3 linked regions of the Homo sapiens genome follow. The protein of the gene in region 2 purifies or fractionates together with the protein of the main gene of each other region. This does not show direct contact. Each region holds a gene or a part of one and is shown on either strand. Other genes may lie near its edges. The genes, in order: DDX11, AVIL and USP47.

The links.
Region 1: the proteins of AVIL (region 2) and DDX11 purify together in Homo sapiens (affinity purification with mass spectrometry; 2 studies listed by BioGRID and IntAct, with this or other methods). This does not show direct contact.
Region 3: the proteins of AVIL (region 2) and USP47 purify together in Homo sapiens (co-immunoprecipitation; 3 studies listed by BioGRID and IntAct, with this or other methods). This does not show direct contact.

What each region holds. Positions count from the first base shown.
Region 1 is NC_000012.12:31,071,970-31,075,718, reverse strand, and holds the start of DDX11 (ATP-dependent DNA helicase DDX11), read right to left. Parts: upstream 1,860-3,749; 5' UTR 1,628-1,859; intron 1,455-1,627; exon of another isoform or gene 1,175-1,454; intron 1-1,174. UniProt on the Homo sapiens protein: DNA-dependent ATPase and ATP-dependent DNA helicase that participates in various functions in genomic stability, including DNA replication, DNA repair and heterochromatin organization as well as in ribosomal RNA synthesis.
Region 2 is NC_000012.12:57,816,857-57,820,605, forward strand, and holds the start of AVIL (advillin), read right to left. Parts: upstream 1,879-3,749; 5' UTR 1,773-1,878; exon of another isoform or gene 1-1,772.
Region 3 is NC_000011.10:11,839,748-11,843,496, forward strand, and holds the start of USP47 (ubiquitin carboxyl-terminal hydrolase 47), read left to right. Parts: upstream 1-2,224; 5' UTR 2,225-2,438; coding exon 2,439-2,477; intron 2,478-3,749. UniProt on the Homo sapiens protein: Ubiquitin-specific protease that specifically deubiquitinates monoubiquitinated DNA polymerase beta (POLB), stabilizing POLB thereby playing a role in base-excision repair (BER). Acts as a regulator of cell growth and genome integrity.

The sequences.
Region 1 (3,749 bases), about 27 Mb from region 2:
TCAACAAAAATCTGATGAACGAATGAGTAGCCAGCCAGACATCGGGGCTGTAAGTGAAGGTTTCTCTTCCGAGGCTGGGTAACGGAGGTCCCATGACTTGAATACCTATTAGTTAAATGGCCAGTTCTTTAATGGTTTCAAACCGTTTTCAGATAACCCCACAAAAACCCTGTGTGGTATTTTTATAAGCTCTATTTTATAGAGAAAGAAACTGAGACTCAGTAAACTTATATGACTTGCCCAAGGTCACTCAGCAAGTGCTTGAACTCAGGATTTGAACCACATCTGCCAGACCCCCAAGCCACCTGAAACTTTCTATCTCCTCACTTTTCCTCCCACCAGGATAAGTGGGATAAAAAAGACAGACTTGGTTACCAAACTCTAGAATGACAACACTAAACAATACAGAAGAAACGTAAGTATTATTTCACTTCCCCATCAGTGGTAATTATGGATCTCATTATTCCAGAAGCAGCACAGGCTAAATCATAGAGGTTTAGATAAATCTGAGTATAACGGATTCACTAAGCCCTATTAAAAACATTTGCAGTGACTTGTTCAGCCCTCTTCAGGTTGGCTGTGTGGAGGACAACCATCACCTCCCAGTGCCAAGGCACACACCAGGACAGCAAAGCTCACGCTCATAAAACGAGGTTAGAGTTGTGAAAGCACTTCAGGAACATATTAGTTCTTAACGTGTTCATTTTCTTCAGTCCCCAATTATCACTCATTACTGAGTACAGACTATTGTTGTGGGCTCAGTTGTGTCCTCCCCACATTGATCTTGGACATCCCAAGCCTCTGGGACTGTGAGAAAACACATTTCTGTGTCTAAGCCACCCAGTTTATGGTATTTTGTCATGGCAGCCGGGGCTGACCAAGACAACTATGTGGCAGGTACTATCTACCGTATGGCCCTAAAATGTTTTAACTTCACACACCTGGAAAGCACCACAGCCCCAAGAAAAAAGCTTTTCCGCACTGCTGTTAAGCCAGGGCCACACACTGCAGTACTGCGGTGCTCCACCAGCTGGAGGATGGCCTGGCCCATAATACCCGCATTCCCACCTTGCTCTGGCCCTGTGTCCCCTCCAACGTGCATCCTGAGCTCGCACCCTGTGTGGAACCCAAACAGCTGCTTATCAGCATTTAAGTCCATTTTTATGACACTTCCGTCAACAATCTGGTCAAGTGCACTCATTCCTGGCCTCCGTACTGTACCCTGCTCCGCCTCGATTCCCGCCCTGGGGGAAGCTAGACTCATGCAGCTAACTTTATCGGCTCTGGGCTCTGATTGCCAAGTTTAGGATCCCAGCTGTATCCTTGCTAAAGTTAGCATCGCTGGGGCTCAGTTTCCGTAAGAGACAGGTGGGTTACAAGCGCTCACTCACTGTTGCAGTGTCTTATCTACGTAAGATAATCCATGAAAAGCTCAACACAGCTGGGCCAAATCTAAGACCCAGACACGCGGCTGCTGTTAATGCCCACTTCTGCGCACCGCCCAGTTCCACCGCAGGCACAACCTTCCTAGGCCTACCCGTCCCCACACAGGGGTTCCCGCTTGTCAATCACGCTGGCCCGGCCCTCCACTTCCGGAATGTTTTCCCGCTCCGGACGGGCCACCCACCTTTGCAAATAGGGGTCCGGCGCCGGAACAGACGCCCAGTTTGCGATTTCACCAGTCTGCCCTTCCTCGTCCCGCTGCTCCTCGTCCTAAGGAGCTCTGCTGCCACACAGCACTGCGCTCACCTTCTTCGCCGGCAGAATTGCTACGCTGAAAGCCAGGCCCCGGGAATCAGGGCAAACGCCACTGAGTTAGAAACTGGCGGGTCCCCTCAGTGAAAGGCAGCCGGAACAACCCCCGCCGCTGCGCATGCGCACTCCGGGACGCGCGCGAACACGCAGCAGCGAGAATCTACAGGGGCGTGGTTTGCGCACGCGGGAACTGGGATCTCAACCCCAGGGCTAGGTGCCTCCTCCCGCTGCTTTCCGCCAGCTGCGGGGTGTGAGATTAATCCCCGCCGATTAGCGCCAGGTGTACTAAGCGCTGGATGGTTCCCTGACCAGATGAAACATCAGCCGATGTTCTAATGCCGGTCCCCTGGGCGCTGTCCCCGAGAGGGAAAACCTGTTTTCTGACCCCGGCTCTAGTCGGCCTCTGGAGGTCTGCAGCTGGGTTATTTTACCTTTGAAACGGACGACACCTGCCCCGTGCACCCCAGCGGCTCCTCCACACGGAGAGATGGTGTCAGTCAAAGGCCGTCTAGATGACGAGTTTATGAAATTGTTCCTGGCCCGTGCCGGGCACGACCTTGCAGAGAGCCCAGAAGATGAAACCCCAGCCCTGCCAGGAGCTCACCTGCTAATTAGGAGGACAACGAATCACCTCACCTCCCTAGACTTTGCTTCTCCTTTATTCAGTGAGGGATTGGACTAGCTGGTCCTTGAGGACTTTTCAGAAAGTCTGGTTCTGGGAGATGACCAATGGGATCATCTTATGCTATGAGCTTTCCTGGAATGACAGGTAATTGGTGCGCCTTCCCAGCAGGGTCAGGGAGAGTTGCTGGGACTTGAAGGAAAGGCTTTTGGGGAGAGGAGCCAGTGTTACAAACTATCGAAAAGCTTGGAGGTGGGAAATTTACAAAAGGTGATTCCAGGGTCAGCTTTTTTGTCACCTGCTTCCGACTTCGGCAGTTTGGAGAGGGCGAGTAAGTAATACCCTTCAGGGTCTTGGGATGTGGCCCAGCAAAATCCTTAGAGGGACTTTGAAGTCTTAGTTTTAAGTTTAGAATTAATGGGCAGAGTACTTAAATAGCCATTTCTCCAAAGATGTATACAAATGGCCCACAGGCCCATAAAAATGTTGCATTCCACCCTATAACATGTTTTTGCATAAAAAAGTTTTAAAATAACTGTTGTCTGGTAAATTGACACCTCTGGAATAGAATGTATGCTAGGTTTTTTACCCTACTGCTTCAAACCCCATCCTACACACACACTCCTAGGGTGTGCATCATCCAGTTTAAGAAGCACCCTTGGAGAAACAAAGTTGATAGTGTGTCCAGAATTGATGGGTTCTTGGTCTCACTAACGCAAGACTGAAGCTGCAGACCCTCGCGGTGTTAGTTTTTAAAGGCGGTGTGTCTGGAGTTTGTTCCCTCAGATGTTCCGATGGGTTTGGAGTTTTTTCCTTCTGGTGGGTTTGTGGTCTTGCTGGCTCAGGAGTGAAGCTGCAGACCTTCGCCTGAGTGTTACAGCTTTTAAGACGGCATGTACTGGAGTTGCTAGTTCACCCCGGTGGGTTCGTGTATCTCACTAGCTTCAGGAGTGAAGCTGCAGACATTTGCAGTGAGTGTTACAGCTCATAAAGGCAGTGCAGACCTAAAAAACAAAAAGAACAAAGCTTCCATACTGTGGTAAGAAAATCCTAGTGAGTTACTGCTGCTGTCTTAGGGCAGCCTGTGTTTATTCTCTTCTCTGGCCCCACCCACATCCTGCTGATTGGTCCATTTTAGAGAGAGCTGATTGGTCTGTTTTACAGAGAGCTGATTGAGCCGTTTTGACAGGGTGCTGATTGGTGCGTTTATAATCCCTGAGCTAGACACAAAAGTTCTCCAGGTCACCACTAGATTAGCGAGATACACAGTGTCGATTGGTGTATTTACAAACCGTGAGCTAGACACAGAGTGCTGATTGGTGCATTTACAAACTTTGAGCTAGATACAGAGTGCCGATTGGTGCATTCACAA
Region 2 (3,749 bases):
GGTGTGGCCTGGTCTGGCCTGCGGACAGATGGCTTCCTTTTTCCCTCCCACACAGACCCAAGCTTCTGTGTGGAAGCGTGAACCTCAGACACTTAGACGTCTCCAGTTCCTTCAGGATTGAGCAAGTCAGGGTGGGGAGAGGGGGGAAGTGGTAAAGATCTAAGTCTGTGTAGGTCGTGTACCATCTGTATTCAAGGAGCATCTTGGGTAATTAAGCACCTACCCATGTCCAAGGCCACGTAGAGGCTTTATAGAATTAAAATACCTGCTCTCAAGGAGCTTGAAATCTGATAACATGCATAATTAATGTAAAGCTAGATTAATTTCTCCCAAGAGGCAAAGGAAAAAGGATGGGGTTGATGGATTTATGTAAGATTTAAAAATTCACCCAGAAAGGACTGTATGCATTTTTGCTGTTTGGGGACATACTGTTTGTTAAGAGGAACATGTCTGACCATTGTTTTCTTGAACCTTGATGGACAAAGCCAAGTTTGGAGAGCATGCGCCATCTAGTATGGACTTTGGCAAAAAACCATAAAGCTCAAAGCAGACTCGCTTTGTCTACTGCTGTAGCAGGACTAAAGCAAGGCAATGGTGCGGAGCAGCCAGTGTTTGAGAATTTAATTTGATAACTTGTGCTGCCCCACCCTGTGCTGCTCAGAATTGCCAGGAAATATGGTGTTTGGGTTTTCTTCAGACCCTACGTAGCAGTCATTAAAGGCAAAAGCCATGAGCCAACTAGGGGAAGGGGACAAGGGCCACTGAATTCATTCCTTGGAGACAGAGAACTGTCACCCTGGTAAAAGCCAAACCAGCCGGCAGCAATTAGGACTGTGAGCCTCAGAGGCTGAAACCTGTCCCGTTTCCCAGCAGGAATTTAGGAATCAAGGAGCTCCCTGGGCCAGGCACCCCGAATGCGAGAGGATAAGCTCCAGGAAGGGACTTCCTGTCACACTGGAACACACAGAAAACACAGTTCTGACATCAAATCTCCCAAAGCTGGGTCTCTCCTTCTCCCTAAATCCTAATTCAGTATCCTTTGAGAGGACTGCAGAAACCCCTTGGGTGTGGGGCACAGTTTTGAAATGTCAGGTTAAAAGCCAGTGGCCTGTAATTCTCAGAGATGCCCTTTTGGACGGACCCTGAGCAGAGGAAGCTGTTTTTTGTTGTTGTTGTTTTTGAGACAGGGTCTTGCTCTGTCACCCAGGCTGGAGTGCAGTGGTACAATCACGGCTCACTGCAACCGCCACCTCCTGGGCTCAAGTGATCCTTCTGCCTCAGCCTCCTGAGAAGCTGAGACCACAGGTGTGCACCACCATGCTTGGCTTTTTTTTTTTTTTTTTTTTTTTTTTTTTTTGTAGAGACAGGGTCTCACTATGTTGCCCAGGATGGTCACAAGTTACAAACTCCTGGGCTCAAACAATCCTCATGCCCTGGCTTCCCAAAGTGTTGGGATTACAGGTGTAAGCCACCTCTCTGGGCCAGGAAGCTGGTTTTAACTCCTCCTGCCTTGCTCCATACCATCTTTCTCTAGGGATAGGTGAAAGGGGTCTGTCTTTCCCAGCTTTTGAAAATGTGCCCTATATGTTCAGCTGCCTCTAAGGGGTTCTTCTGAACAAGAAGTTTGCAAAACTGGCCAGCCAGACTCCTGGTTCATTTTAAAAGCCTCATCTCAGAAGACAAAGCCAAGGGACTCTCAAGCTCCTCTTCCTTTCATTTCTTCCTCATTCAGGAGGATTAACTGGCATGCCCCCGTAAATCAGAGACCTTACCTTGCCTTCTCGCTCACCAGCCTTCCCAGTTTCCCGGCGCGTAAGCAGCAGCAGTATTGAAGAACCACTCCAAAGCAGGAGGCTCCAGGTCCTGCTGCCTTAGCTTAGTAATGGCCGCAGAGATACTGGGTTATATTTGCTTGTGTTTGCATCTTAACCGCATTTTCCTAGTCCTGGCCAATCAGAGCCAACCTAGCACTGAGCTTGGCTTATTCAAACCAGAGGGAAAGCTTTATCTGTGCCTATTCAAAACAGCAAAACAGAAGAGCAGACTTTTAAAGGCTTCTTTGAACTCCAGCTCCACGCCCTGATCTAATTGATTTTTTAAAAAGTGCACACAGCCCATCAATAATGCAGGAAAGAGGTTGGAAGGATATGAAATTTGCCATATTGTAGATATGGATGCATTATGGTGATGACAGGAGGAAGAGGCTGGAGCTGCCCCATGAGTGCCTGTGATGTCTAGGTTGGCAAGAGCCTCCCTAAGAAGCTTCTGGCATTTCTCAAAGGGAGGGGAAGTCTGGGAGAGGAGCCAGAATTTTATTAGGCCACAGTTTTGCTCGTTGGGGTCTCTACTAGTCATACAGTAAACCAATCAATATTTGAGTGCCTGCTGTTTGCCAGGAACCATGCTGGGCTCTCAGCTTCAGGGTTTCCAGTTTGGAAGAATCAGTGAGGGGCAGAGAAGAATCAAGACTCCATTCCCAGGGCTGGGTGTGGTGGTGGCTCACGCCTGTAATCCCAGCACTTTGGGAGGCTGAGGTGGGTGGATCACAATGTGAGGAGTTTGAAAACAGCCTGGCCAAGATGGTGAAACCCCATCTCTACTAAAAATACAAAAATGAGCCGGGCGTGCTGGCAGGCGCCTGTAATCCCAGCTACTCAGGAGACTGAGGCAGGAGAATCGCTTGAACCTGGGAGGTGGAGGTTGCAGTGAGCTGAGATCATGCCACTGCCTCTAGCCTGGGCAACAGAGCAAGACTCCATTTCAAAAAAAAAAAAAAAAATAATAATCCATTCCCTTAGGGCTTCTGGTTCATGCCCAGAAGTCAATAGGACATCAAGCATATACACGTGCTAAGCACCTGACTGCAATGGGGTTGATCACAGCAGAACTTGTGTAACCTTGAGCGGAAGCCCTGTGTGGCATCTGCAGCTGGCCTCCCGGTGGGTGCAACACCCCACTCAGCCCGGGGGTGCAGCTGCTTCATGATGGAAGGGGTTGCGAGAAGAAAGGCGGTGCTTGCCATGGGCCCAGTGAACACTTAAGGGCCAATGAAGGTTGGTGGCAGCTCACATTCCTGGAAAGGTTTTTTAAACCCACTTTTATTAATTAATTGTAAGTAATACAAATATTCCAAAAATATAAACAGACACTTAATGGCGTCCTGCATTTCAAGTTTTTGAATACAACAAATTTATCAAACCATGAATCTGTAAGCAAGGTAGTCAGAATCCCATAGCCCAGTCACAGTGGGAAGCAGATCCCCTACCCTCCAAATGGCATCTTGAAGGGGGAAAGCGGCACGAAATGGAACATGATAAGCAAAAAAGCTCACGAGGCCCAAAGAGGAGGGTCCGCTCCATGGGCAGGCCCTACAACGTTAAAAGAATGGGGCAGCTGGCCCGACCTCTGGCCTCCTCTTCCCTGGCTGAATGTAAATATTTACCAGCATTTAGAAAAAAGGAGAAAAAAGACAGAACTAAACCCGTTTAGGAAAAAGGGACCGAGGGACAGCAGTGGTTAAGTAATCCACTGAGGACCTGAAGGGGAAAATGGACTTACCTTTCTCATATACTTGGCCTGGCTAGGACACTGGGTGCCAGACAGCCTTCTGAGGGGATTTTCTTTCTAAATGAGGCCTCAGGAACAGGTAGGGGCAGCAGAATAGAATAGCATCCATTTCCCAGAGAAAGACTGCCTTTACATTTCCCATGCTTTTAGCACAAAGCAGCGTCTGGGCCACTGTTACCAGA
Region 3 (3,749 bases), on a different chromosome or scaffold from region 2:
TTCATTTTCTTTTAGTATGTTGTCACTTATTCCAGTTTATGTGGGCTGGGTTAAGTAGATTTATCAATTACATTCTTATTTCATTATATCAACCTTTACTAAAATGAAAGTGACTAAAAAGGATTTCTGGAAAGACAACATGAGTTTGAAATAATATTGCAAGCATAAGCAAAAAAGATGACAGAGATGACATTTTTACTTCTAGGGTGAGCACTACAGCACTGGCCAGCACTACAGAAGACACCTTACTAAGTCATGGGATGACATTTTGAAAATAAAAGTTTGGAAATATTTCCATCATGTGATTTTGATGCAAAAATGATATATGTGAGCCACCCAAGTCTGGGACTATGGTGAAGCAAATGGTTTTCAAGGTGAAAACCGTTCACCTTGGGCACAAAATTTAAGGGGGGGGTGCCAAAAATTCAATAATCAAGACAACTAATCTTAATACAATATTTTAAAAAGTCAAAATTTATCTTAATCAATCCATGATAATCAAAATATCAAAACCTTAAAGACAAGATCTATAACTCCCAAAACTCATACATGAATACTTAAAACTTGAAGATAGAAATTTTCAACTTCTTAAAAATCTTCTAAGCAATTTATTCCAAAGAGCTTTGAACCCATTTGTAAAAATATAAAAATGCAACATCTTCTGGTTGACATCAGGAAAGATGGAACACTACTAGCTGAATTTCAATAAAAACCTTTGCATGGTTGTTGGATGGAATGGATAAAAATGAAACTTTTTTCATATCAGTTTTTTTTTTTAAATCGTTCTAAACATGCATTAGGAAGAGTGGCCAAAGATGTACTTCCTCCTTTAGGATCTACATCTTTGTGAGTTACCTTTTTTTCAGCTTATGACAGCCATTAAAACCAAGTACAAAAATAACCTGACGTTCAATCAGATATTTTAATAACTATTTCACGAAGTATTAAAGATTTTTAAAACTAACGAAACCTAGTCAATCATATTGATTTCCTTAAATATTTTTAGTGAGAATAACAAAGATTTTTATACCATTAATATGGAAAATAACTAAGTTATTTTAAATGTTTATGTCATCTTTGTCTTAGCCTTTTTACATTTTACAAATGTTTTATAATTCTGCACACAGCAGGACACGTATAAAACTTATATAAGTATATGGATTTTTTTTTGGTAACGGGATTACAATAAAAAAAAGTTTGGAGAACACAAGTGCAGGCAGTTAATGCTGTGGGTGTTAGGAACATGACAAGATTATATTATCTCAGCATGCTGTAAGATCACTGTATCCATAAAAGTCTTCATGAAGGAGCCCCGCCGAGTCTCCATAATGGAAGCAGGATTTGGAGAAATGACTTCTGCAAACTTTGTTTAGTATAACACAAAGCACCATGCTTACTACTAGAGAAGATTAAAATTCTCTAAAAACCTTGTTAACGGAGATCACAGGTTGAAGCATACTGCAGCTCTACTCTTGGAAGGCTAGCTCAGTCTCAGACTTGGCCCTGATGGAGAAGGAAGTTCCCTGGAAGAGGGCAGGGGAGCGCCTCTCCAATGTAGTTGCGGGGGGCGGGCGGTGAGGACACCGCTTCATAAGGGAAGGGGTGGCTGCCTCCCCAAGCAGGGGGTGGCCCCTGAGGTCCCTCCAGCTGGGGGCCCTTGAGAGGGAGGGTGGGGAGAGGGGAAAAGAACGTCAGGAGAGTGAACGGGAGCAAATAAAACGCTGTCCATTCTGACTGGAAGGGCCAGAGCCGTGTCTAAGGGCGGGGGCCGGGAGGTGGCCCGCGGTGGTGTCTCTACCAGGACGAGGCCTGGGGTATCTGAAGAGGGGATGACGTCCAGGCGCTTTGCTAAAGGGAAGCCAGAAGGGTATGAGTTGCTAGGGTCAGAGATGGGGCTTTCGGCTCGAGTCTTTCCCTGCAGGGCAGAGAGTCCGAAGAGCCCGAGAAGGCAGGGAGGACAGTGGGCCTGGTCCTTCCCCGGCCGGCAGAGGGAGTCCCGAGATGGAACGTCCAGCTCTCCTCTAACGAAAAGCGTTTGCATGGCTGTCTCGCCAATTCTGTACCTCCCGGGGCTGAGGAAGAGCCGAGGTGACTAGAAGCTAGCGACAAGTGCCGGCCACCTCCGACGCCAGGCGCCGGGCTTGGAGCCCGACGGGCCGAATTCTCGCGAGAGCGGCCGCCGCCATTTTTCCATTGATTGCAGCGGGCTGGGGGAGGGGCCGACGACGAAGGCGGCTGTGGTAGCGGCGGCGGCGGCGGCGGAGCCCTGGGTCGGTGTCTGCGCGCTGGTGTCTGAGGCCCAGGCTGAGGCCTCCGCTATTGCTGGAGCGCAGGCGGCGGAGAGGATGACTGCCGCTGCCATTCTCTCTTGAGCTAGCGAGCCGCCGCCACCCTCCACCCTCCCCCGGCAGGGCGGAGAGGAGCGGCCGGAGTCAGCGATGGTGCCCGGCGAGGAGAACCAACTGGTCCCGAAAGAGGTGAGGGGCCCCAGAGGAGGTTAGGCCTTAGGCCTGCGGCCGCTCGAGGCAACACAGGCCCGGGCCGGGGTTCGGCTGCGGGCCCGGCCGGGGTGCAGGCTCGGCTGTGGGGGAATGAGGAGGCGTGAGGCAGTCGGGGGTGGACGGTGGGTGCGGCGAGCAGTTGGGAGACCCGCTGGCTCTAGGGGCCGGGGAGCGGACCTCCCGCCTCGGGTTTTATGGGGCTGGACGAATAAAGGAGCGGACGGGAAAGAATCAGGTTCTGCTCTAGGGGAGAAGGTGGCCTTTTAAGTTCTTGTTTAACGTGTGGAGCCGGGAGAGATCATTTCAAAGAAAACATTCTGGAACAGTTGCCTATGGGCACGGCAGGGTGACGGTGCTGCTTCTGGGTTTGACAGTGGCAGCGTATAGCTTTCAGCGCTTGTGAAATCTACACCCAAGTGAGATCTGTGGGAGGGCAGACTTAACTGTTACGACTTTTTTCAACTCCTGTTACTTGGTAGTACTATTGGCCTGCCTAAATGGGGCCTACCGAAGATCGTGGAAAAGTAGTACATGGGACATTAATGTAAAGGAAGGAGATAGGAGAACATTACCACATGGAGAGCTGAACTCTTTTTTTTTTTTTTTTTTTTTGAGGTTGGGTTGTGTATGCCAATTTGAGTGACTTCTTAAATTCTTAAAAGCAAGTGATACGAGAAGCCTTGACTACTTGGCTTCTCTTGAATAGTAGTAGAAGATTTAGGGTAGAATCCAGCACTGGCCAGCGAATTTCAACGTATTAATAGTATCTCTGTTGGCTTTATAAATATCTTCGGCGTATTCAAATGTGTATTTTTAACTGGCTGATCATCAGGCTAATGCTTTGGATTTTTATTTCTCATATACCTTAAATAGAGACAAGTGTTGGATTGAAATTAACTGTGTGCGATCTTGAAATTAATGAGTGATCATTACAGATTCTTAAATTTTTTTGTGCCTGTTTTACTTGTTTTGTAGCAATTCTTTGTTACTTAAGCAAGCTCTGACAGTATGCAAGGGTGATATTATTGGAGTTATGTACCTGTATGATACAAGTATTTTCCCAGCTTTGTCAGAAGGGCAGTGATAGTTGTTTTGCAAGGACGATTTTTGTAAAAGGCAGAGAGTTATGTGTCAGTATTTGTTCATCAAGCGTCACCAACTCTGTGCAAAGCAGATAAACAGATGAGTTAATCAGAATTCTTGCCTTGGGAACTTTCTGAGCTACTAAGAAAGGGAACACTAGTGTTT